Homo sapiens: one gene and its partners. The protein of the gene in region 2 purifies or fractionates together with the protein of the main gene of each other region. This does not show direct contact. Each region holds a gene or a part of one and is shown on either strand. Other genes may lie near its edges.

Evidence for each region.
Region 1: the proteins of CLUAP1 (region 2) and NISCH purify together in Homo sapiens (affinity purification with mass spectrometry, with the first as the bait; one large-scale study listed by BioGRID). This does not show direct contact.
Region 3: the proteins of CLUAP1 (region 2) and CADPS2 purify together in Homo sapiens (affinity purification with mass spectrometry, with the first as the bait; one large-scale study listed by BioGRID). This does not show direct contact.
Region 4: the proteins of CLUAP1 (region 2) and IQGAP2 purify together in Homo sapiens (affinity purification with mass spectrometry, with the first as the bait; one large-scale study listed by BioGRID). This does not show direct contact.
Region 5: the proteins of CLUAP1 (region 2) and IFT25 purify together in Homo sapiens (affinity purification with mass spectrometry; 2 studies listed by BioGRID and IntAct, with this or other methods). This does not show direct contact.
Region 6: the proteins of CLUAP1 (region 2) and BBS7 purify together in Homo sapiens (affinity purification with mass spectrometry; 2 studies listed by BioGRID and IntAct, with this or other methods). This does not show direct contact.
Region 7: the proteins of CLUAP1 (region 2) and IFT46 purify together in Homo sapiens (affinity purification with mass spectrometry; 3 studies listed by BioGRID and IntAct, with this or other methods). This does not show direct contact.

The regions. Positions count from the first base shown.
Region 1 is NC_000003.12:52,483,104-52,486,603, forward strand, and holds part of NISCH (nischarin), read left to right. Parts: intron 1-1,409; coding exon 1,410-1,534; intron 1,535-2,674; coding exon 2,675-2,724; intron 2,725-3,500. UniProt on the Homo sapiens protein: Acts either as the functional imidazoline-1 receptor (I1R) candidate or as a membrane-associated mediator of the I1R signaling.
Region 2 is NC_000016.10:3,518,004-3,521,503, reverse strand, and holds part of CLUAP1 (clusterin-associated protein 1), read right to left. Parts: intron 1,602-3,500; coding exon 1,468-1,601; intron 1-1,467. UniProt on the Homo sapiens protein: Required for cilia biogenesis. Appears to function within the multiple intraflagellar transport complex B (IFT-B). Key regulator of hedgehog signaling.
Region 3 is NC_000007.14:122,389,961-122,393,460, forward strand, and holds part of CADPS2 (calcium-dependent secretion activator 2), read right to left. Parts: coding exon 3,481-3,500; intron 3,356-3,480; coding exon 3,236-3,355; intron 1-3,235. UniProt on the Homo sapiens protein: Calcium-binding protein involved in exocytosis of vesicles filled with neurotransmitters and neuropeptides. Probably acts upstream of fusion in the biogenesis or maintenance of mature secretory vesicles.
Region 4 is NC_000005.10:76,675,785-76,679,284, reverse strand, and holds part of IQGAP2 (ras GTPase-activating-like protein IQGAP2), read right to left. Parts: intron 2,068-3,500; coding exon 1,935-2,067; intron 1-1,934. UniProt on the Homo sapiens protein: Binds to activated CDC42 and RAC1 but does not seem to stimulate their GTPase activity. Associates with calmodulin.
Region 5 is NC_000001.11:53,925,200-53,928,699, reverse strand, and holds part of IFT25 (intraflagellar transport protein 25 homolog), read left to right. Parts: intron 1-259; coding exon 260-328; intron 329-3,500. UniProt on the Homo sapiens protein: Component of the IFT complex B required for sonic hedgehog/SHH signaling.
Region 6 is NC_000004.12:121,842,975-121,846,474, reverse strand, and holds part of BBS7 (BBSome complex member BBS7), read left to right. Parts: intron 1-778; coding exon 779-971; intron 972-2,473; coding exon 2,474-2,548; intron 2,549-3,500.
Region 7 is NC_000011.10:118,552,432-118,555,931, forward strand, and holds part of IFT46 (intraflagellar transport protein 46 homolog), read right to left. Parts: intron 2,892-3,500; coding exon 2,817-2,891; intron 2,653-2,816; coding exon 2,559-2,652; intron 2,157-2,558; coding exon 2,028-2,156; intron 1-2,027. UniProt on the Homo sapiens protein: Forms part of a complex involved in intraflagellar transport (IFT), the bi-directional movement of particles required for the assembly, maintenance and functioning of primary cilia. May play a role in chondrocyte maturation and skeletogenesis.

The DNA of each region.
Region 1 (3,500 bases), on a different chromosome or scaffold from region 2:
TGCCCAGCGTGGCCCATCAGGGTGCTTCATGCATGGCTGTGTGCTTGCCATCCTTCCTGCCTGCCTACCCCCTGCTGCTTCGCTTCGTGGGGGCGTTTGAGCTTGGGCCCACCTGCCTGCCTCGCTTGTGGGCAGAGGACCCAGGCTGTGTGAGTTGTCCTGTCCCGGGGAGCAGCTGAGCTGGTCGGGGGTCTCGACCTGTGGGGCTCAGAGGACTCGGGGTCATTTCACTGGGCTGTGGCGATGCTGGGCTGTGGAGGTAGGCCTAGGGCTCCTGTAGGCCTCAGTGAGACTGGCGGCCGATGCCCAGTGTTCACCCTGCTGGCGGCAGTCAGGAACATGTTCACAAAGGCTTTACCTTCAAGTGGTCTAGAGGTGATCTGAGGTGGAGTAACAGGTCCAGATAGGCTACGTTCATAAAACAGCTTCAGCGGGGTTTAGGAACACTGTGCATTTACGGGACGCAGTGGGTCAGAGTGCTGCTGTCCGTGGGAGGTGGCCCCAGGGCAGGTCAGTGGGCACGTCCTGTGGTAAGTGGGACTGTGGATGTGGGCTCAGGCTGGACTCAGCAGCCCTGCTGGATACCAAGGCCTGCAAGGGCTGGCCCCCTGGTGAATTGTCCCGTGCCCTGTGTATCTATGAGTCCTGCAGAGATGACAAATCAGGGGACGGGGTCATGTCTAGTCACCGTCTGGGAAAATGCTCCAGGAGTGAACACATTTCAGGCTCTTGATGGATGTACCTCCAAACTCTTCTCTGGATGGGTGGGCCAGCTTGCATGCCTGTGCCGGCCTCTGCCCAGCGAGGTCAGGGCCAGGCCACACAGTCAGTCTGACTTTGGCAGAAGTTGAGAGGCAACACTTGTCTCTTGTTTCAGCTTGCCTTTCTTTGTGTACTTCTGAGAGCGAGCATTCTTTTCATGTTCTATCCGCTGGCCGTTCTTCTGCGGAATGTCTGTTCACGTCCTTTGCAGTCTGTTAATGAGGTTTCCAACCTTCCCTCATTTTTGTAATCTGTAAGAACTTTTTACAGACTAGCGATATAAATCCTTGTCAAATATTGCAAACACTTTTCTCATTTCATCTGGTTTTAATCTATCCTGGTTTTTAAAAAATGTGTCTGTGGAAGTTTAATTTTTATGTAGTCACATCTCAGTTTTTTTCCATTGCATTTATTCTCAGAATGCTTCTCCCTGCCCTGAGATTAGATAAGCAGTCATTTGTTCTTTCTTGAGTTATTTTGAGATTTCAGTTTTAACATTTTCTTCTATAATCCATGTGGCTGGGTTTTGGGATCTGGCTAACCCCCGCCATGCCAGTAGCCTGAGGGGCCCAGCCCCACTTGTTGAACAGCCGCTCTCCCCGCCCCACCCACCCTGCCTGCCTGCCCACCCGCCCTGGTCTCTCCAGGAATCATGTTCGTTCAGGAGGAGGCCCTGGCCAGCAGCCTCTCGTCCACTGACAGTCTGACTCCCGAGCACCAGCCCATTGCCCAGGGATGTTCTGATTCCTTGGAGTCCATCCCTGCGGGACAGGTAATGCCCTCTTCCCGCTTCTGGGGACCATACATCTGTGGGTGGACTCTTCTGCTTGGGGTTGTGTGCAGTAGGAAGTGGCCTAGCTGGAGCTGAGGCAGATGCTTCCAGGGTTTGGCGTCCTCTGCTTTGTGCCACGGTCTTTCTCTTGGACCTGTCTCTGGTTGAGTGTCTTCCTGACAAACACAGTGGTTAAGGGTTTATTTTCAGCCTCCCTCCTTCCCTTCCCCACCCACCTTGGTTGATGGGAACAGGCAGTTCTCTGTCACTGGGCCCAGGGCACGAGGGGGGCAGGTGGAGAGGGTGGCCCTTGACCCTGTGAGCAGGCTTCCCTGGGGAAGGCATTTCAAAAGACCCTCGTGCAGGGGCTTGTTTGGGTTTCTTCTCTGTTTCCTGGCACCCCTGGAGCCACTCGGCGCCTTTCCGCATGTCACCCTGGTGGTCTGGGAAACAGTCTCACTCTGGCGCCTCCTCTGTGGTTGTTACTGAGAGTTCTGGGGCCCCTTCCTTTGTCCTGAGGAAAGACAGGAGGAAAGCAAGGGTGCTTGCTGTGTGCTTCGCAAATGTGCTTGGTGCCTGGGCCTCCCTCCAGCCCCATCTCTGCAGCAGCACAAGGTTATGGCCTTGTGACACTGGGACAGTTTGCAGAGTCCTTGTCTGTCCTCAGTACTCCACAGTATTCTGCCATCACCCTTTCCAGGGTCACACAGCAAGAGATTCCCAAGCCCTAGGTATTCCCCAGTGCACAGAGACCATTGGGAGGGACTTGCCAGGGCTGTGTCCACTGCTGGCCAGTTAGGGTCGGACCAAATTTGTAGACTGTCTACCTGGACCCTTGCGTGGCACAAGGAGCAGTCAGATGCTGGATCCCTGGAGAGTGGCGAGAGGCTCTGGCCCTAGGTTGCGAGTGGGAATCCCAGCCCTGCTGTGTGCTGGTGGGATAACCAAGTGGGTCTCTGCCCTTGGGTCCCAGAGTGGGCCCCAGGGTCCCAGAGTGGGCTCCAGGGTACAGCGTGGGGATGGGGAGCCTCCTCAGGGCGGTGATGGAGGGCAGAATGCCCAGCTCAGGGTCTGGCAACCAGTAAATGGCTGGGGCTGGCTGCAGTAGGTGGGGACTGACTGTGTTTCTTTCTCCATCAGGCAGCTTCCGATGATTTAAGGGACGTGCCAGGAGCTGTTGGTGGTGCAAGGTAAGGAAGAGGTTGGAAAGGGACCTGGGCCTGGCCACACAGCCTTATGCACACACACTGCTGTGGGCCAGGGGTGGCCAGTCAGGTTTTTTTAAAAATCCGTTCACAGAAGGCCTATAGAACTATTTCTTCCTCTAAAGAGACACAGATGAGATGGACTTTTCAATCTGTTTCCAAATTCTAATACCTAAACTCTGCTCAGCACATGTTGCCCTACACCAGGGGTTGGCAAATCAAGGCCTGTGTGTGGCCCACAGCCTGGGAGCTAAGAATGACAGTTACATTCTTTTTTCTTTTTTTGAGACTGAGTCTCGCTCTGTCGCCCAGGCTGGAGTGCAGTGGCGTGTTCTTGGCTCACTGCAACCCCCGCCTCCCAGATTAATGCAATTTTCCTGTCTCAGCCTCAGCCTTCTGAGTAGCCCGGACCACAGGCGCACGCCACCACGCCCAACTAATTTTTTATATTTTTAGTAGAGACAGAGATTCACCATGTTGCCTAGCTGGTCTCGAACTCCTGAACTCCAGTGATCCACCAACCTCGGCCTCCTAAAGTACTGGAATTACAGGCATGAGCCACCGCGCCTGGCTAGAATAACAGTTACTTTTTTTTTCTTTGAGACTGAGTCTTGCTTTGTCACCCAGGCTGGAGTGCAGTGGCCCGATCTCAGCTCGCTGCAACCTCCGCCTCCCGGGTTCAAGCGATTCTTCTGCCTCAGCCACCCAAGGTGCCCGCCACCACACCTGGCTAATTTTTCTGTTTTTAGTAGGGACAGGAT
Region 2 (3,500 bases):
GGGATCGCGCCATTGCACTCCAGCCTCGGCAACAAGAGCGAAACTCCAACTCAAAAAAAAAAAACAAAAACAAAAAAAACCATAAAAATCTATACTGGTTTGCTGAACTTTTTCTTTTTTCTTATTATTGACCTTAAAGGGAAAATTCTACTCTTTTAAAAATATAAGCAGATAAACTCAGAAATAATTATAATCTTTTGAACTAGAGCAAAACAAAGAGACTTTTCTGTTAAAATGATTTGGAGCTTAACAAAAATGAATTGATGCTTTAAAAGTGGAATGTGTCAAGGAGATCAATCTATATGGCGGCAATGACTTCTGTTTTTTTTTTTTTCCCTCTCTGAGGCTCCAGAGGTAAAGAGCCAGTTTCAGGAGGGGAAGGGCCTTGGCCTTGCGCTGGGCAGGGAGGAGCCAGGGCGCTCCCTGTGGTTGCTGTCGCTGCCTCCAGGTGCTGCCTCCCCACAGACCTCGGGACAGTGGGCAGGGTGTAGCCAGCCACCAACATCCAAAAAGGCAAAACATCCGAGCAGAGTAGGCAGCTGGGAAGAGGAGGGAGCCAAGAAGAAAGAAAAATAAAGGGTGAATGAAAAGGGAGAAAGAGCAGAAGCATGGGGGAGGGAAAGAGGCACAGAACGAGGAAGAGAAGAGAGAGAGAGCCGGCACCACTATTCTCCATCGGTATTCCTGGGAAATATATTTCCAATGAGGTAACGTAGGAAGAAAGATGAATTACTGACTGGTGAGGAATGATCAAGGTTTAAATAAAGTCTAAAATCTATGCCAACAAACAGGCAGGAGTATGTTTCTGTTTCTACCTAATTTATGGCAAGATCTTAGGAGACCACGTCTGGATTTCCCCGTCTGGATTCACTTACTCTGCCTTGAGTTCCAAGAAGCTATAAAAGCTTAAAGGGCAGTTCAAGCTTTAAGCAGTTTTCCAGACATACCGCAAGCAGTAAAGAGAATGAGTTTAGCCATCTGCTTGTTATGACAGGCAACACATGTACATTTGAGGTGAAGATACCCTTATGTAAGGCTTTTTTTCATTGCTTGAGAAGAGTTAAGATCACATTCTATTCTCTTAAGTCTTTGTTCTAACTTTTTTTTTCTTTTAGAGTCAGGGCCTTGTTCTGTTACTCGGCCTTGTTCTGTGGCTCAGGCTGGAGTGCAGTGATGCAACCATAGCTCACTGCAGCCTCAACCTCCTGGGCTCAAGCAATCCTCCCGCCTCAGCCTCCCAAGTAGCTGGGACTACAGGTGTGTATCACCATACTGAGGTAATTTTTAAAAATTTTTAGAGATGGGGTTTCATTATGCTGCCCAGGCTGGTCTCAAACTCCTGGGCTCAAGAGAACCCCCCGCCCCAGCTTCATGAGTAGCTGAGATTTCAGACATGAGCCACCACGCCCAGTTTGTTTGAACTTTCCAGGACATCTTTCTACTCATTCTCCAAGTGTTCATATCTACCTGACACTCTGCAGAGTCTCTAGTCGCTTCCGATTTCTTTCCAGTTCTAATTTTCTCTTTTCGATTTTGGCTTCTAAATTAGCTTCATCAGAGGCCACATTATTGAGCAGGTCTTTAGTCTTCTGAACCTGTGTCTATATTTAATGGGAAATAATGAGACAAGGTGGCAATAAAAACAGCCATCCTAATTCTTAGAAGAATTTTGCAACTCTTCAGGCATAGCAACATTATGCTCAACAAACACAAAAGCAAACAAATAGACACTTCCCCAAGCAATGACTCACTTAACCCACTAGTTCCAGGGAGAATGTCACACAGGTCCAGAAAAAGGTATCTCTTTTTTTTTCCCCATGAAAAGCAGGCATTTCTACCCAGGGAAAGAAGTGAAGATGCAAAGAAGAGTGTCCTGGTCAAGGTGGAGAGGCCTGCAGTCTTTTCTCTGGCTCACTCGGTTAGAACAAGGTGCACATCACTCTGGACGGTCAGTCTGCCTTTTTATCATTCGGGCCATGCCCCTAGTTACAAACACCCGACTTACAGAATACCCACACACACCAAGTACTGCTCTACTAGGAGGGGAGAGAAAGAAACAGCTGGTCCCAGCCCTAACCCACTGCCTGCTGGGATTGAGAGAAGGTCCTCTTCCCTCTCCCTGGCAACAGAAGCTTGACTACAGACTAAAAACGAGGAGAAACCACTCTGAAGACAGTACGAAAGCAGTTCCCACAGTGGCAATGGCCACACTGGTGTGCACCAGCTCTGGAAGGGGTCCAGGGCAACAGTTGGACAGAGGCCCTTGGGCAACAGAGGCTGAGTAAAGAAGGGAAGGGGGACACGGGCCCACTGACGGTGACACAAGTCTCCCTATCCTAAGAGAAGGTTCATTTGAAGCAGGTAGAGTCACTGGTAGTGCGCCGTCTTCACATGCGTCTTGTCCGGTGGCTGGCTGGATCACATGCCTGGGGTTCAGGCTCCAATCTCTTTATGAGGAATCTGGACTGCCACCCAGCTGAGCGTGGAACTGCCCCCCAGGGTTCTGGCTTTCCAGCCCTGCATTAAGTTCCTGGTGGCCAAGGTGGGGCTTCCCCTCCAGCTCTTTGCCTATGTGTAGCATCCCACGAAGGGGTTACTCTGTTTTCCTGCAAGTCTCTGAAAAGCTATGGGCTCCACAGAGAAATGGCCTACGAAGCCCAGACACTCTCCACAACTCTCAGGCATGGTGTGTTTTGGAACCAGCCACTGTTACTGACAATGCGTTTATGGTCTAATTTTTTTGGTCTAAGTACACTAGCCACTTCTAAGATACTTTCATGAAAATAATCAGACCCTTATCATCGATTTGCTGCAAGTGCCTTAGAGCCCCCAGGAGAAATGCGAGTTCACCCTCACAGGAAGAAAGGTGGGTCTCCTTTCTAAACAACTTCAGTTAATGGCAACTGTTTCCTCGAACCAAAGTCAGATTAAAACCTAGTAAATTTATCCCACCTTAAACATATCTGTTCCTCAAACAAGAAAGATCCACAATGCAAAACAGCTGTGTAAACACAAGCAATTTTCCCTGGTTTCTGAAATAAATGGCCTGTACTCCCCAAACCCTTTTAAGTACCCATGTTGTTTTGGTTGTTTTTAGAATGATCAAACATCACAGATATTTTCTAACAATGAAAGGAGTCTTAAGAGATGTCTACCAAGAAATGAACCCTGTCCTCTCTTGGGTGTTCTACTTTTAACATATTAGTGCTAAGGGCACATTCATGCCGTGTTCACCTGATTCAGTTAGAACACTGGCAAGGATAAGAGGTATAATAATTTTTTTTTAATTTTTAAATTTAGAAACAATCAAAAATTTACGGAAAACCTGTTGTACAACACAAAGCGTTTTTCCCAACCTAGGTGACAGTAAGTTGCTGACCAGACGTTCCAATACCCTGAATACTTTAGCGTGTATTTCCTACAAATAAGGACTTTCTCCTACATCCCCACAATACAATCATCAAAACAGGAAGCCAGCACTAACACACTACCACCGTCTA
Region 3 (3,500 bases), on a different chromosome or scaffold from region 2:
TTAGAAAAAAAGGCACCTCTTGCTCTTGACTAATGAAAAGCTTATTCCTGCCCTCCACCCTGGCCTCAGCGTCAAAGCTCTATCACAAACCTACACTGCTTTTCTCTTCTCATTCTGCCAGTAATTCCTCCTGATCTCCTTGTCTAGCCAAAATGCCCTCAGACTTAAGTTCTCTAGGGACCAATCATAGCAAAGCACTGAACACTCCCGTAGCACTTTACTCACTTAAATCTCTTCACCGTAATATTCAGTGCCTCAAATGCACCATTAAATAAGAGAACTAGACAACACCATTCTGATACTACAGTGAAAGTGTTGAAAAAAACACTACCTTTATTTCTCCTTTTGCCATATATATCATACAATTAAGAGAAAACAAACAAACAAAATCTCCCTTCACATCCACAGTGTACAGCTTGGTAGATTAGAGGAACTGAGTTTTAAGAATAACTGAATACAATTGGCAAAGAAGCAAATCTGCTTCTTATAATATTTTTACTTTGGAGAAATGTAACTATTTGGAATGTATATATTCTTTAACAACACAATGACAAGGAAAAACATCATAAAAACAAAATCTCTAATGGTAAAGGCAGAATTCTACTAAAAATAGATTTTCTAATAATACATGGCAATCTTCATAGAGAATATGGTTACATTTTTCTTCTGTTTGATTCTATGGTAAGATTCTTGACAATAAATGTGTTTAATTGGGAATGTAATTAAGATAACAAGTGTTTGTTATAATTAGATAGATATATGAAAAAAATGTGAGTAGGCTTTCTCTGGAGTTGGTACATATAACCTGCAATTTATTCAGAGCTTTTTCATTTTAAAATTATTTCTAATTGGTGGCCTATTCCTAAAGGTATTATTAACAGATTAAAGAATTCGAATGTGAGTAGTAGACTCTGAGATAATTTCCTAAAAATGCCAGCAGGAAACTTAACTTGCTGGCATTCATTTCTAGAGAAAAAAAAACAGAATAAAGATTTATATACAGATACATATGTCGATGAGCAATCCTTGCATGATTTATGCATTGGTAGGCAGGGATGTATCTTCAAAACCATGGTTGCTTTTATATTCTTCTTATTTAATCAGCAGTTGTATTTTTAATTCTTTATGTTAAATATAAATGTTTCTTTTTATTAATGTTTCAAACTTCAAAAAACAAATGGCAATAACATCATAACATTATGAGTAATTCTGGACACTCTGACAAAGAACCTAATGTTGATAACCTTGGTAGGTAAAGATAATGGTGATCAACTTGTAAAACACATTTTTAAATTTCCCCAGAATGGTGAAAGCACAATCACTTTACTTACAAAGCCCCAATTTGTCATTATTCCTGTCCTGAAATTAACATACTTTAAAAAAGGGCCCTCAATAAGGGATTCAGAGTTTGTACAAATCCCAAAGTTAATAAAAGATTACTAACAAAAAAATAAATTTCGCAGGATAATGCCCATGATAGTGTTCTTGGCTAAAATCAAGCGTTAAATAGATGAGAAATTAGGAAGAAAAGGAGTTAAATTATAAAACAGTGTAAAAAAGAACAAAAAAATCATACACTTAGAAAGGTTCATTATAGTTTGTAGGCAATTTTCTGAGCACACACAGACACCACTTTACACACTCTAATGACCAAAAGCATTTGCCTGTAAGAAAAAAAATTCACATGTAACATAATATCCTAGTGAGTATTATGAATGCAGTTATGATGTTAAACTTGGAGAAATATTGCCAAATTACTTTGCAAGTTATTCTCTTTCTTGGTCTTTTCCTATTTCTTTTCTTGATTGTGTGCATACCTGACTGGGTGTGGATTTGCAGTTGGTGGTGGGATAGGTAGAAAAGTAGCAAGTTCTTAAACACAACGTTCTATGACAGCAGAACAAATTAATGATAGGAGTGAGGAATTTGTAGTCAAACGAACCTGGGTTCAAATTTTGCCTCTGTCACTTATTTGCTGTGAGATATTGGGTAAGTTTGGTTTCTTAGTTTCTTTATGACTTAGTTTCCTTAACTGTAAAATGGGGATAATGATATGAGGTTGTTATAAAGATTAAATGAGATAAATAACTTGGCACTGTACTGGAAACAGTAAAATCTCAATAAATGGAAGCTATTTTTCTTCCTCTCATGATTATTCTTTCTAGTTGATTTCATATGAGATCTTGGGCAAAGCAGGTAACTGCCCGAGTTTTCCCATTTGTAAACTAGTACTATTACTTGGTTCTGATTGCTGTGAGGCTCATAGTTTTAAAAACTATACCATTATAAATTATAATGATGATGCCTGATGATAGTAATAATAACAAAAACAACAATGTAGAGTAGTAGTAATTATCATTTACTGGGTGCCTAGGATATGCCAATAGTACTAATAATTTACTGAGAGCCTAGGATATGCCTCAATACAGTTTTTTTTTTTTAAATCATCACAAAAACATCTTTCATTTAGGTGTCATAATTGTTTTAGAGTTGAGGAAAAAACTCAGGCTAAGAAGGATTTACAATTAATAAGCTAAGATCTAAATTCAGAACTGATCAATTTAAAAGCCCATTCCTGTTCACTTCAGTGGTTCTTAGTTGCTGATTCTGCAATAGGCAAGCTCATCATGATGTGAAGTTAATAAATATGGTTTTTGATGATATAAAGACTATTTAAAAATACCAAGATGTACCAACTATATAATAAAAGAACAAAAGAAGAACTTCCTGGTTTTGGCAATGAAAGGGCCTGCAATGATGCAGTACTGTTTTTTAAAAGTTGAGACTAAGATAAAAATAGAAAAATATTATATTCTTGAAACCATTCTTCCAAAGGTTTTCTACTTGCACAAGATAAGTCATCTGGGCAGTAATAAAGCTGGAGCTAAGAATCCTCAAAATGCTTTGTATACATAAGGAGAACTCTGATTATTTTACTTAGGGTACAATGTCACCAAATGATTTACTTAGGGTAGAATGCCACCAAATTATTCCTGTCCCACAGATTATATATGAACTACATTAAACTAGCGTGTTTTTTCTTTTTAATTGACATTATTCATCACAGATATGCTAAGCTTAGCTTACTAGCTTAAAAACTCAAATAAAAAAAAAAAAACAGTATTCCTCAACCAACGATGACAAATGCCATGCAGTCTAAACACATCTGCGCAGAACACAGCCCAGGCCATGCACCAGCTAACACACCACCAGGAAATAAGTGAGGAATACACACGTGGACTCATATAAAGAAGGCATCCACGAAGCAGTAGAAATGTTAGGAATCTGTGGAAGATTAAGAGGCAGACTTGGAACTTTTGGAAGAGCTACATTGGGAAGACTGTTGGCGATATTCCTGTAAAGAAACAAACAACGTGGGAAGGGACCACCATAAGCGATAACTACAGATGGCCATGTGTGAAGTCATAAGGTCAGGGTTGAAGAGGCAGGTGCTCTACGGACACTAGGTAAGATACCTACTTGACAGGCTGCCATGTCTC
Region 4 (3,500 bases), on a different chromosome or scaffold from region 2:
TCTCCTTAAAGACTTCTAAGACTTCTAAATTAATACAGTAACATTTTCTCTCTGCTACCCTTGGGAAAGAATCTCTCACTCTAAACAAGTACTCCCCACCATTTTTTTCGCATGTGGATATTGCATTCAGCAAATGTGCACCCAAGATGTACATATTCTTTGAAGACAGATAATGTACCACAAAAACAGACAAATGGGTCATTGCTCAAATATAAATGAGTCTGTCCAGTAGATAATTATTTCTGTAAGTAATGCATTGCTAGATTGCTGGACAGTTTTCCTTGTAATCTAGGGTGTTCATATATAGAGAAAAGAAGGATAGCCTATTCATTTAATCAGTATGTATTGAGAGCTTGATGTAAATGTCAGGGAAGTTCCCTGTTTCAACCCTGAAAGAAGAAAATCAATACTAGATTCAATCTTTCCTTCAAACCTACATTCAAGCTTTAGTTTCTTAGAAGAGCTTAATAATAGACTGAAATTTTAAGCAGCTAACCTGCCACTTGTCAGTATGTCTGGTTTGATGGGGGCTAGAGCACAACCTTTGAGAATGTGTATTTGTTATGCTTTCCCTTTGGTTCTCTGTATAATCCAAAGTTGGGTGCATCCTTAACTGAAGCATCTAGAACTTGAATGTGCATCTGAATCCTCTGGGATCTTGTTACAATGCAGGTTCTAATTTGGGAGGTCCAGGGTGCATTGCTAACATATCCCCAGGACCTTGCTTCAACTCACAAGGTCTGAAACTATTCTTGAAATGGTTACCTTTTAAAAACCAAGATTTTTTCATGAAATAAGTTCCAATTGATCTTAAAAAGAAAACAATGCAAACCCCTCAATGCTTAGCTTTTTTTTTTTTAATTTTAATGTTTGAAAAGTCATCTAAAGCCTCCCAATTCCTTCCCCATGCCACTGAGCACAGTGCCCTGCACCCAACAGATACTTAATACATGCTAATGGCTGACGGCAGTGATGTCTGCATGCAAACCAGATGTAGATGTCATAACACAGCACATGATGTGAAAAACTGCCTGCTTCCGAGAAATGGGGGTTTCCAGAACAATGGAAGTGATTCTTTGCAGAAGGCTACTATTGGGTGGTAGTTTCTTGTTTTCGTTGCGTAGCCTGTTTATTACCACTTTATGTTAAAACATTAGAATAAAAAGAATATTCTCATTTCCCCCAGAAAATTACTGGAAAAGCTGAGAGGGTTCCTGGAAGAGGGGAGAGACAGGGTGTAGGTCTACATAGCATAGCTTTGGCGGATGAGAACACCATAGCCTGTCCTGGCTCAGGGCTTAAACTGCATATTTACAATCTGGCTTTATTTTTATTATTTATTTATTTATTTTTTGAGGTAGGGTCTCGCTCTGTTGCCCCGGCTGGAGTGCAGTGGCACGATCATAGATCACTGCAGCCTCAGACTCCTGAGCTCAAGTGATCTCCCACCTCAGCCTCTTAAGTAGCTGTGACTACAGGCATGTACCACCAAACCCGGCTAGTTTTTAAAAAATTTTTAGTAGAGATAGGGGTCTCACTATGTTGCCCGGGCTAGTCTCAAACTTGTGGGCTTGAGTGATCCTCCTGCCTCAGTCTCCCAAAGTGTTGGGATTACAGGCATATGCCACCATTCCAGTCACAATCTGGCTTTGTAAATGGATTATGCCAAAAGTACACTTTCTTTTTTGGGGAGAAGTTTTATTAATGTCTAGGAGTCAGGGAATAATTATGTAAAAATAGAATTTTGTTGTTTGGGAGAAGGAGTTTTATTAATGTATAAGAGTCATGGAATAAATAATTGCGAGATTTTTAGGGTTAAGAATATGAGTATTAGCACATGTGTACAATAAGTCCTGTAGAGATTAAGCATTTTCAAGATAACAGATGCCTAAATCATGGGTCCATTGCTAAGATGGCTCCCCATCCCCACTTACTGAGTGTGTGCTGATGATTTCTTCAATTGAAATATAAATGACTGGTTTGCTGACTGTCACCAGGTCTGTGTATTTGTCCATATTAAACTTCTCTTCTGGCTCAGGGACATTACATGCTTCTTTGAAATATTTCCTAATAAAGGGGGGAAAAGTCTTAAGACAGACTCAAACATGTGCATTAAACAGTTTCATCAAAATAGCTAGGAAATTTTGAATGATGACATGTACTTTGTTCCCATCTCAAACCTTGAGAGGACGTGTTACAGCTTCTTCCAGGCTGGCTCCTGGCTGTCGGAGCTGCATCCATGTTTCTGGATATTGGACCCAGCTCCTCAAACAGGATTGGAGAGAGTGGCAAGGGCCTCAGGCCCTGTTTGTGACTTAGTGATATAGTGACCTATGCGTAGGTCATCTTAAAAATGTTATTTTAAAAATGGTCCCTGAAACTTAAAAAGTCAAAAATGATAATTCTTGATCTAAGAATCAAGTCTGTGTGAGGAATACAATAGAAAAAAAAGCAATTAGTCAAATTTGCTGCTTTAAACAGCACAGGCTCCTGGGCCTACATCACCCTAATCACCCTTCAGAGCTTCTGTTACCAGTTTGACAAAAATGAGATTAAGTCTACTCTTCTTCGTTGCTGCAAATATTTGCTGGCCGATGGAAAGATTGTTAAGGCTAGACACCCAAATACATAACATGTCCCAGGACTCAGACCCTAAAAAGTCTATTTTAAGCTAAAGCAAGTTTTGACAGAGATCAAGAGAAGTGAGGCATGCTGTGATCACAGTTGAATAGTTCTATGTATTTTTTGCCTAAACAATTCTTGTGCAGGTCGAATATACATTTTATTCTATAAAGTTGTAAATGTTTCATATGCCTGAAATCATTGTCGGCATCTCTCCTACAGGCACCTGGGTCTTATGTACCAGAAATGACCTCTGCTTTCCCAGCCAGAGGCTGGGGGAGGTTAAACAGCAGAGCCCTGTTGTGGGGAGCATGTTCCCATGTAACAGTCGGCTTTCCTATGCTGCTTTGGTTATAATTTTTTGTAGATTTCTGAGAAACACAAAGGATAAATATGAGTGGAAGAAAGGACAAGTTTAGAAGAGGCTCACTTCTTTGGTCTTGTTTCTTTTTAAATAAAGAATAGGTGGGAACATAAATGACTGATAGGAATAACAGCAGTTAAAAGTTCATGAGAAATGTGGGAAATGGATATTACTTTGTGTGTGTGTGTGTGTGTGTGTGTGTGTGTGTGTGTGTGTGTGTGACAGAGTCTTACCCTGTCACCTGGGCTGGAGTACAGTGGCACAAACACGGCTCACTGCAGCCTTGACCTCCAAGGCTCAAGTGATCCTCCCATCTCAGCCTCCTGAGTAGCTGGGACTACAGGTGCTTACCACTATGCCCAGATAATTTTTTAAATTTTTTGTAGAGATGAGGTCTCCCTATGTTGCCCAGCCTGGATATTACTTTGTTAGTCAGTGAGGAGAATGAAAAATTAGCTTGAAAAATCAACACTTTCTGTAGTAGGAGGATTTGGGGCAATTTTCTCACAAAAGA
Region 5 (3,500 bases), on a different chromosome or scaffold from region 2:
TCGGAACAATGCCAAATTCAGAAAAGCTCTACTTGCTCTGTGTTGTATGGTTGCGAACATTTGGAAGATTAGTTACACAAGACTATATTTTACCATAGGGTTTTTTGGAAACATACAGAGTAACTTCCATGTTGTTTCTGATCCCAGTGCTCTGTGTAGTTCCACTGTGCATGATAATCTCAGGCAGAGGGAAAAAGAAATATAGGGACAAAAACATACAGCCAGATTAACACTTTACTTACTTTGTTTACAATGTTAGTACAGACCTTGAAGATTGAAAAAAGCACGTCTAAAGAGCCAGTTGATTTTGAGCAATGGATTGAAAAAGGTATGTGTTTCACCAGCATTGTTCTGAGCATGAAGGAGTAGATAATATTCCTTTGATTCTGCATTTCTCATCTAGCTGCACTTTGGTGAAAAAAGATGACTTTAATGATCCTTGTGACACATTTAGGGTCTAGAAAGACCCAGGTTTGAATACAAAGCTGCTTCTTCATTTACTGGTTATATAAGTATTAACATGTGACTTAATTTTTCTCAGTTTCAGAATCCTTATTAGGAAAATGGTGATGATATCTATCATTCAAGGTTTTGGTGAACTAGTGTCTGGCATATAATAGACAATAAATATTAGTTTCTCATCTTCTTTCCTTTTGTCCTGATTAAGGGTACTATTTAAATATCACCAGCAGAATTGATAGCCTCTACTTAATTAAACACAGCATCTTGCCTTCATATGTCTATTTTCCCTTTCAAAATACCATGAAAATAATATTAAAGGAATAAAAAGAGGCATAAACCTACAAGGACAAAAGATTTAACAACCAGCAAACTAAAGCAAATGTGAGAGATCAGTGTATATTATGATAAAGAGAAAGCAGATTGAAGAGTAGTAACTTCTTTAGCTGAATGAACTGTGTTATAACCTAAGGTCTTGACAAGGAGCATGTCAATAAGAAGCAAGCCACTTTGCCACACAAAACCCCAGAAAGGCCTAGAGCTCAAAGGCAACAGGTGCCATGGGAAGTATGAATGAGACCTGGGTCAGAAAACAAGGATGATTAGTTGAACATCTATTTACAGAGTAATCAGACTCTAGGTACCTTCTTCCGTCCTACAAAACTAGGTGACCACTCCTTTATCCCACAGACCTCCACCACAACCCTCAAGAGACAACTGCAAATATAGAATGTTGAGGCTCAGGAGACCAGATATAGTAGGGAGTGAGTGAGACATGGAGTTGAAAATACGATACTAGTGGAAGCCTACATATTGAATAGTGGGAACACCAGCCTCCTTCCTGTGTTCTGGTATTAACTTCAGCAGCCAAGAATATACCCTCAGCTGGGAGACTGGAACATTCATCTTTGGAGAAACTAAATGGCCCTAGAAAAAAGACCTATGGATACTGACAAAGGCCAGCTCATTTCTGGTCACCTTATTTAAGTCCAGTAATCAATAAGTGTGGCTCATGCACACAGTTTTCAAATGATGCACAGTTTTCAAATGATCCACAAGTAACAAAAGAAAGATCACAAGACATTAATGAAGACCTCAAACCCTGAATATAATCAAGCTTTTAGCTCTAATTTCCAATCTATAAGAAATGTAGAGGATAGAGGAACAAATTAAGTGAAACCACGAATAGACAAGATGATAAAATCTAGAATGTGGGGCCTGGGCACAGTGGCTCATGCCTGTAATCCCAACACTTTGGGAGGCTGAGGGAGGAGGATTGCATGAGTCCAGGAGTTCAAGACTGGCCTAGGAAACATGGCAAGATGTTGTCTCTACAAAAAAAAATTAAAAATTAGCCAGGGATGGTGACATGTGCCTGTAATCGTAGCTACTTGGGAGGCTGAGATGGAAGGACCACTTGAGCCCAGGAGGTTGAGACTGCAATGAGCTGTGATCATGCCACTGCACTCCAGCCTGGGTGACAGAGCAAGACCCCATCTCTTTAAAAAAAAAAAAAAATCTAGAATGTGGGACATTGTACAGGACAACTGACCTGGTCTCTTCAGTAAGTCAAAGACATTAAAAAATGTGTGTAGGGGAGAGAAAGCAGTTGAAGGTTAAAAGAGACTTAATTCTGATTTTAATAAACCAATTAAAAAAGACAGGGACAATTGGGGAAATTTGAATAGGAATTGGGTTTCATATTATATTAAACCACTATTTTTAATGTTATGATGGTGGTATTATGGTTATATAAAGAATTATTATTTAGAAATGGATAATTAAGTATTTAGGGGAAGCTAGGCTCACGCCCATAATCCCAGCATTTTAGGAGGCTGAGGTGGGCGGATCGTTTGATCTCAGGAATTCAAGAAACTACCCTGGGCAACATGGAGAAATCTTGTCTCTACAAAAAATATACATATATATTTGCTAGGTGTGGTGGCATGCACCTGTAGTCCCAGCTGCTTGGGAGGCTGAGGAAGGAGGATCACTTGAGCCTCAGAGGTGAAGGTTGCCATGAGCTGAGATTGTGCCAGTACACTCCAATCTAGGCGACAGAGTGAGACCCTGTCTCAAAAGAACAAAAAAGTATTTAGAGATGAAATGTCAATAATGTCTTACACTTGCACTTGCTTTAACTTTTTTTTTTTTTTTTTTTTTGAGACTGGAGTGCAGTGGCGCAATCTCGGCTCACTGCAACTTCCGCTTCCCAGGTTCAAGTGATTCTCCTGCCTCAGCCTCCTGAGTAGCTGGAATTACAGGCGTGCACCACGTTGCCTGGCTAATTTTTGTATTTTTGGTAGAGACAGAGTTTTCACCATGTTGGCCAGGCTGGTCTCAAACTCCTGACCTCAAATCGTCCACCCACCTCAGCTTCCCATAGTGCTGGTATTATAGGAGTGAGCCACCACACCTGGCCTAAAATACTTTAGTGAAAAAAAAAATTGATAAATCCACTATGATGAAATGTTAGTAATTATAAAATCTAGCTTATGGGTATATGTGGGAGTTTTTTTATGTTCTCTCCTAAGTATGTTTGATATTTTTCTTTTTTCTTTTCTTTTTTTTTTTTTGAGACTGAGTCTCACTCTATTGCTCAGGCTGGAGTGCAGTGGCGTGATCTCGGCTCACTGCAAGCTCCACCTCCTGGGTTCACGACATTCTCCTGCTTCAGCCTCCCGAGTAACTGGGACTACAGGTGCCCGCCACCATGCCCAGCTAATTTTTTGTATTTTTTTTTTAGTAGAGATGGGGTTTCACCGTGTTAGCCAGGATGGTCTCAATCTCCTGACCTTGTGATCTGCCCGCCTCAGCCTCCCAAAATGCTGGGATTACAGGTGTGAGCCACCATGCCCAGCCGATATTTTTCAATTTTTCATAACTAAAAAAACTAAGCAAATGAAAAAGTTTATTATTAATTTCTGGTGATAGAGTTGTACAAGAAAGAAAATATCATTATAATGTATTATTTCAGGAGTAAATAACCTTTAGATAGACAGAGTAATGTAACCATCAAGTAGGATTTCAAATTTGAGAGG
Region 6 (3,500 bases), on a different chromosome or scaffold from region 2:
AGGTACATAGGAGTAAATATGTAATATTTAGCAGTAAATATTTCTTTGATGAATGAATCTTTTCCTTTGTTCATTACACAGATCCCTTCTAAGCTCCTCCCTAGACTTTTCCTCCTAAACTGTGGCTAGTTAAGCCTCATGTTGTTCTATCCCAATGACTGTTTACTCCATTTGCATGTGGCCCTTCCCCTTAACTGGAGCTCTAAGCAATGCTGTAGTTCAGTCTCAGCAGAATCCTCTCTAACTCTTGGTAGTTAAGCCATACCACTGGCTCATGATCATCCTTGTGGTCCCCAAAATGCTAATGCTCTGCAGCTTCCTTTTTATTTTTTATGTCTCCCCTAATGTCTTACTGAAAGTTACGTGTTTACTGGCTTCACACATTTTGTCTCTTTTCATTAAGACTAATATGTTCTGCAATATTAGTTTCTCTTCTCATTAGTATAAGAAGTTTCTCTTCTGATTAGTACTTTATGTAACTGTAACAAGATTCCTGTGTTAAGATTATTTTGTAGCCTACCATGATATTTAAAACTCTCTATTAATATTGCTAGTATGGGAATGAGTAGATATTTTAATTTTGGGGTTAAGGATAAATAATGTGGAATCATTTAGTCAGTCATAGAAGCAAAAATTTTGCTCCCTTTGTTTTTATTTTATTAACTCAACCAATAAAAACCCATTTTGTAAAAGCAAATGTCTCAAATTTTTGTAAACATCCTAACGACCTCAAATGTTTATACTTATATTTGACAAATTTGTATGTGTTTTTCTCCAGGAATGAGTTGGAACATTTGCAGTATAAGGTATTGCAGGAAAGAGAGAATTATCAACAGTCTTCTCAATCAAGCAAAGCAAAATCAGCAGTACCTTCCTTTGGTATAAATGATAAATTTACACTAAATAAAGATGATGCCAGTTACAGCCTTATCTTAGAGGTACAGACTGCAATAGATAATGTCTTAATACAGGTAAGCAAAATGTCTAATTTCTTAGTTTTATGACTGGATCTATTTTGCAAACCAGTCATATGTACTAATTATTATTGAACATTTTTAGTTTTAGACAGTAATTTTATTTTATTTTTATTTTTATTTTTATTTTTTTGAGACAGAGTTTTACTCTGTCACCTAGACTGGAGTGCAGTGGTGCGATCTCAGCTCACTGTAACCTCCGACTCCCAGGTTCAAGTGATTCTCCTGCCTCAGCCTCCCGAGTAGCTGGGACTACAGGTATGTGCCACCACACCTGGCTAATTTTGTATTTTTAGTAGAGACGGGGTTTCACCATGTTGGCCAGGCTGGTCTTGAACTCCTGACCTCTGGTGATCCACCCGCCTCGGCCTCACAAAGTGCTGGGATTGCAAGCGTGAACCACCCCACCCAGTCATAGACAGTAATTTTAAATGTTTATGGCCTTTTATTCTTCCTTTAGATAATTGGTTTGCTCACAGATTATTTGAATTATATTTTTACTTTTTATTTATGTACTTAACAAACAAAAGATGGGCTTCAGTTTTAAGAAGAGTTAGAAAAGACAGTAAGGTTTTTCTTCTTTGGCTACCCTCTGGGAGAATCTTAACAGAGATGTGACTTAGAAAACTACCATATTTAATGCCCTTGCTAGAACATTTTTTTTTAAAGCCCCAAACATTAAAGTACAGCTTGCTCATTAACCCAACAGTTTCTGGTAGGTCAACAGGCAAAGTAGAGAATACTAAAGGGTGAAATTTAGGGATAATAATATATGACTCCATTCATCAATGTATATATTTACTGACTTATTTAAATTAGAAGGTATTCAGGAAGTAGAAAAGAATAATAGGATGAATAGAAAACAAACAAAAGGTAGTAAACCAATCACAAAATGAGAACATAACAAATTGGAGGAAGAAAAGGTTTAAAAAGATGTAATGGAGAGATCAGATTATTAAAAAAAAAACCTAAAGGCAGAAAACTCTCTTAAGTAATGCTAGCTCACGGGCTGTTGCATTGAACAACTCTAGGAATGCCATTCACATAGGACAGTGCAACAGCTTTGTCCTACAAACTGCCTCTCCAGAGGAGACCAAAAATTATCTTCTTTCTGTGTTACAGGTAAAATTAAAACTGATAAAAATGAACTGATACAATCAGAATGGCCATGTGATTATTTATAGCTCATGGTAACATTTTTAGCACTTTATAAAAATAAGTGGGATGATTGGACTTTTAAGGGGGTGGTGAGAGATGTTATTCTGTGATTTTTATAATCCAAGTTAGAAAAAAGCAGGTGATTGTAAAATAACATTTATTCTTTATTATATTTATTTTCTGGAAGTATATACTATCAAGTATAAGTTAAGAGAATTCATACTCTCAAATTTAAAGATGAATATAAACTAGAACTAAGGAGAACTCTTAGAGAAAACATAATTTATGAACATTTTTAGGTTTTCCATCTCAACCTTCTTTTTTTTTAATATTGACTATAGAGTGATGTTCCAATAGATTTACTTGATGTGGATAAAAATTCTGCTGTTGTTAGCTTTAGCAGCTGTGATTCTGAGGTGAGTAAAAATATAAAAGAATTCTTCACATGCTTTCATTTCTATTATGCCATTTTGATTAAAGTCTATAGATGCTGCTAGGTTTTGATGTTTCTTTTTCAATTATTTCTTATGTAACCTTTCCTTCAAAATCTGTGTCGGTTCTCTTTCCCTGTCCTCAGTCGAGAAACCTGATGTCCTAGATTCCTTCTTTTCTGTGATCTGTTACAGGTTGATATCCCTTATGTGAAATGCTTGGGACCAAGAAGTATTTTGGATTTTGGATTTTTTTCAGGTTTTGGAATATTTGTTTTGTATTTACTGGTTCAGCACCCCAAATTTGAAAATCTGAAATCTGAAATGCTCCAATGAGCGTTTCCTTAAAGTATTATCTTGGCACTCAAAAAGTTTAGAGTTTTGGAACATTTTAGATACTCAGTTTGGGAATGTTCAGCCTATATATCCAATTAGTCACTAGTTTCTGTCAGTTCTACCTCCATGGCTTTCATACTTCCACTTGGCTTCATTCCTACCCCTGTTAACTTAGTCCAGGCCCTTATCATGTCTTGCTTGAACTACTTTATAAGTTTCTCTGCCTCTAGTCTTGCCTCTGACTTCTAGGATATGCTGTATGTACACTACCACCAGAGACGTCTTCCTTCCTAAAACACGAACATCACTGTATCTTTCTTTTCTCAAAACCTTTTCAATATTCCTGATTTCCTGCTAGATATAAATATAGATTCCTTATTGTGGCATAGAAAACTTTCCATGATTCAGCTCTTGATTACATCTCTAACTTCTCTCTCACCGGCTGCTACCACCCCTCCCATGCACATTATTTCTGCCAAACTGAAGTTCTTAAAATTCCTGAAAATGCTATATAGTTTCACACATCCCTGCATTGGAACATGATCTGTTGCTTCCCCCGCTCTTCCTGCCCTGCCCCACTTTTTCTAGGCTTGTTGAATGC
Region 7 (3,500 bases), on a different chromosome or scaffold from region 2:
TTGCTGATGACAGCTGCTGCCACGTGAAACAGTAGCCAAATGAAGGGGATAGAAAACCCTGATAAAATCTGCTGCAGCCAGGCCAGGCATGGCGGTCACACTTGTAATCCTAGCACTTTGGCAGTCTGAGGTGGGAGGATCAGTTGAGGCTAGGAGTTCAAGACCAGCCTGGGCAACATAGTGAGACCTTGTCTGTACTAAAAATTTAAAAATTAGCCAGGCATGGTGGTGTGTGCCTGTGGTCTCAGCTACTTGAGAGGCTGAGGCAAGAGGATCACTTGAGCCCAGGCGTTTGAGGTTGCAGTGAGCTACGACTGTGCCACTGCACTCCAGCCTAGGCAAGAGCGAGATCCTGTCTTTAAAAAAAAAAAAAGCCAAGTGCAGTGGCTCACACCTGCAGTCCTAGCACTTTGGGAGGCTGAGGCAGGAGGATCACTTGAGGTCAGCCTAGACAACATAGGGAGACCCTACCTCTATAAAATAAAAATTAAAAAAAAAAAAAACCTAGCCAGGCATGATGGCACACACCTGTGGTCTGTCCCGGCTACTTGGGAGGCTGAGGTAGCAGGATTGCTTGCAGATCGAGGCTACAGTGAGCCCCAATCACACCACTGCACTCCAGCCTGGGTAACAGAGCGAGACCCTGTCTCAAAAAAAAATAATTTGCTGAAGCCATGGAAAGGCAGCAGGTCAAAATGGCAGGACTGACCATAATGAAATACCATTTAGGCTGGGCTTGGTGGCTCACACCTATAATCCCAGCACTTTGGGAGGCCGAGGTGGGTGGATCACCTGAGGTCAGGAGTTCGAGACCAGCCTGACCAACATGGAGAAACCCTGACTCTACTAAAAATACAAAATCAGCTGGGCGTGGTGGTGCATGCCTGTAATCCCAGCTACTCGGGAGGCTGAGGCAGGAAAATCGCTTGAACCCGGGAGGTGGAGGTTGTGGTGAGCCAAGATCACGCCATTGCACTCCAGCCTGGGCAACAAGAGTAAAACTGTCTCAAAAAAAAAAAAAAAGAAATACCATTTCACACCTACTAGGATGGTTAGAATGAAAAATACAAACAAAAAGTATTGATGAGGATGTAGAGAAACTGGAACTCTCATTCATTGCTGGTGGGAATGTAAAATGGTACAGCCACTTTGGAAAACAGTTTGGTAGTTCTTCAAATGGCTAAACATAGAGTTTCCATATGGCCCAGCAATTCTACTCCTATGTATATACCCAACAGAATAACAATATATACCTACACAAAAACTTGTATACAAATATTCAAAGCACCATTATTAATAAGAGTGGACAGAACTAGAGAATGAATAAAGCAAATCTGGTAAATCCATACAGTGGATATTATTCAGCCATAACAAAGGAATGAAATAATTACCAGGGTCTAGGAGGAAGTGGGAGAATGAGGAGTGAATAGTAATGGGTATGAAGTTTCTTTTTGAGGTGATGAAATATTCTAAATTAGGTAGTGGTGATGGCTACAAAACTGTGATTATATTAAAACTAATAAGTTGTACAATTTAAAAGGCTAAACTTGCTGGTATTTAAGTTATATATAAATAAAGCTGTCATTTAAAAATAGAGCTGGCCCAAAGCAATAACCATCTCTTTTTTTTTTTTTTTTGAGATGGAGTCTAGCTCTGTTGCCCAGGCTGGAGTGCAGTGGCATGATCTCGACTCACTGCAAGCTCCGCCTCCCGGGTTCACACCATTCTCCTGTCTCAGCCTCCTGAGTAGCTGGGACTACAGGCGCCCGCCACTACACCCTGCTAATTTTTTTTTTTGTATTTTTAGTAGAGACGGGGTTTCACCATGTTAAGCCAGGATGGTCTCGATCTCCTGACCTCATGATCCACCCGCCTCGGCCTCCCAAAGTGCTGGGATTACAGGCGTGAGCCACCGCACCCAGGCCCATCTCTTTTGACAGGCAGTAAGTCAACTGTATGAGTGCCAGCAAGGCCTCCTCCACTCTTGGCCCTCTCCAGCTGGGGCCTATACTAAGCTAGTATCTTACTGTGATGTTGTGCTGCTTAGAATTCTCTGTTAACCAGAGTGAGAGCACCGTAGGGTCTGACTGCTTTGTAGAAGGTTCATCCAATACCAATAGGCCAAGGTTGTCAGGCTTTCCATCAGGACGTGGGACCTGGTTAAGAAAAAGGTAAGAAAGCAGAAAGGAAAATGTTTCCAATAAGTTAAGAGGAAGAACACTTCTGGTTCATCATTATTACTAGTATTAAAAGCATGCTTATCATGCTGTACGCAATACTATCCAGAAAAAAAATATTATCCATAGCAGCTTAAATATGAACCTGTTGTCATAGATAATTAGGAAGCAAATACATGACAAACTGTTAATGTGTAATGAGATATTAAGTATTACTTAAGAGCAATGAGTGTAATTTGGAGTTGAGAGCAAGGTTAAGAACTCCAATGAAATGAACATGACTAGCCAATGCTAGTCAAAGAAATTAGGGAAACTGTTAAGAGTAACAGGGGCATCAGAAGAAACACTTAAGGAGTCATTTTCAGGATGTACTGACTATACCTTTAAGAATGCATCAATATCCCCGACAGCTGGGATAAAATCAGGAATGAAAGGCTTCAGTTTGTGGTCCAGGTCAATCAACTGAGGTGTGTACCTAGGAGATATTGCCAAGGGAAGGTGGAGACAGTCAGAAAAAGTTACTTTACTATTCAGGCTAAAAAAAAATCTAAGGGGAATGGCCCTGTTTCAGACTAGAGATAGGAAAGGTTTGGGGCAAGGTAGGGATAGTGGGGTATGGTGGGAGGTCCTAGTACTCACCTACTGATGTACTGGAAGAGTTCCTTAATTTCAGCAGAAACTGGCAAATGCTCATAGTCTGCAGGGTCATAGGCCCTGGGAAAAGGAAAACAGTTTGTTCGAGGTGGCCAGAGAAGAGCAGAGGTGGCAGGGTCCTAGGTGCTGGTGTGTTACTGACTATAGGGACATGATCCTGAAGCTAGCTTCTGCCTCTCCAATATCTGCCTTTCCTGGTGGCTTGCAAGGCAACTTTAAGGTTGATTGTACTTAACTCTCAATTATCTCTGACTCTGAAGGACAGAGGTGCAGAAAATCCAAAACATAATATTTTTTTGATGTTAAAATGTAGCATAAATGGTTTTCCTTTTTTTTAATGAAAGGATGACAAGAAAAGGTAGAACAAGAGATTTTAGGGCTGGGCGTGGTGGCTCACACCTGTAATCCCAGCACTTTTGGAGGCCGAGGCAGGCGGATCACCTGAGGTCAGGAGTTCAAGACCAGCCTGGCCAACATGGTTGAAACCCTATCTCTACTGAAAATACAAAAATTAGCCAGGTGTGGTGGTGCACACCTGTAGTCGCAGCTACTCAGGAGGCTGAGGCAGAAGAATCACTTGAACCTGGAAGGCAGAGGTTGCAGTGAGCCAAGATCGCACCACTGCACTCCAGCCTGGGTGACAAAGCAAGACTCTGTCTCAAAAAAAAA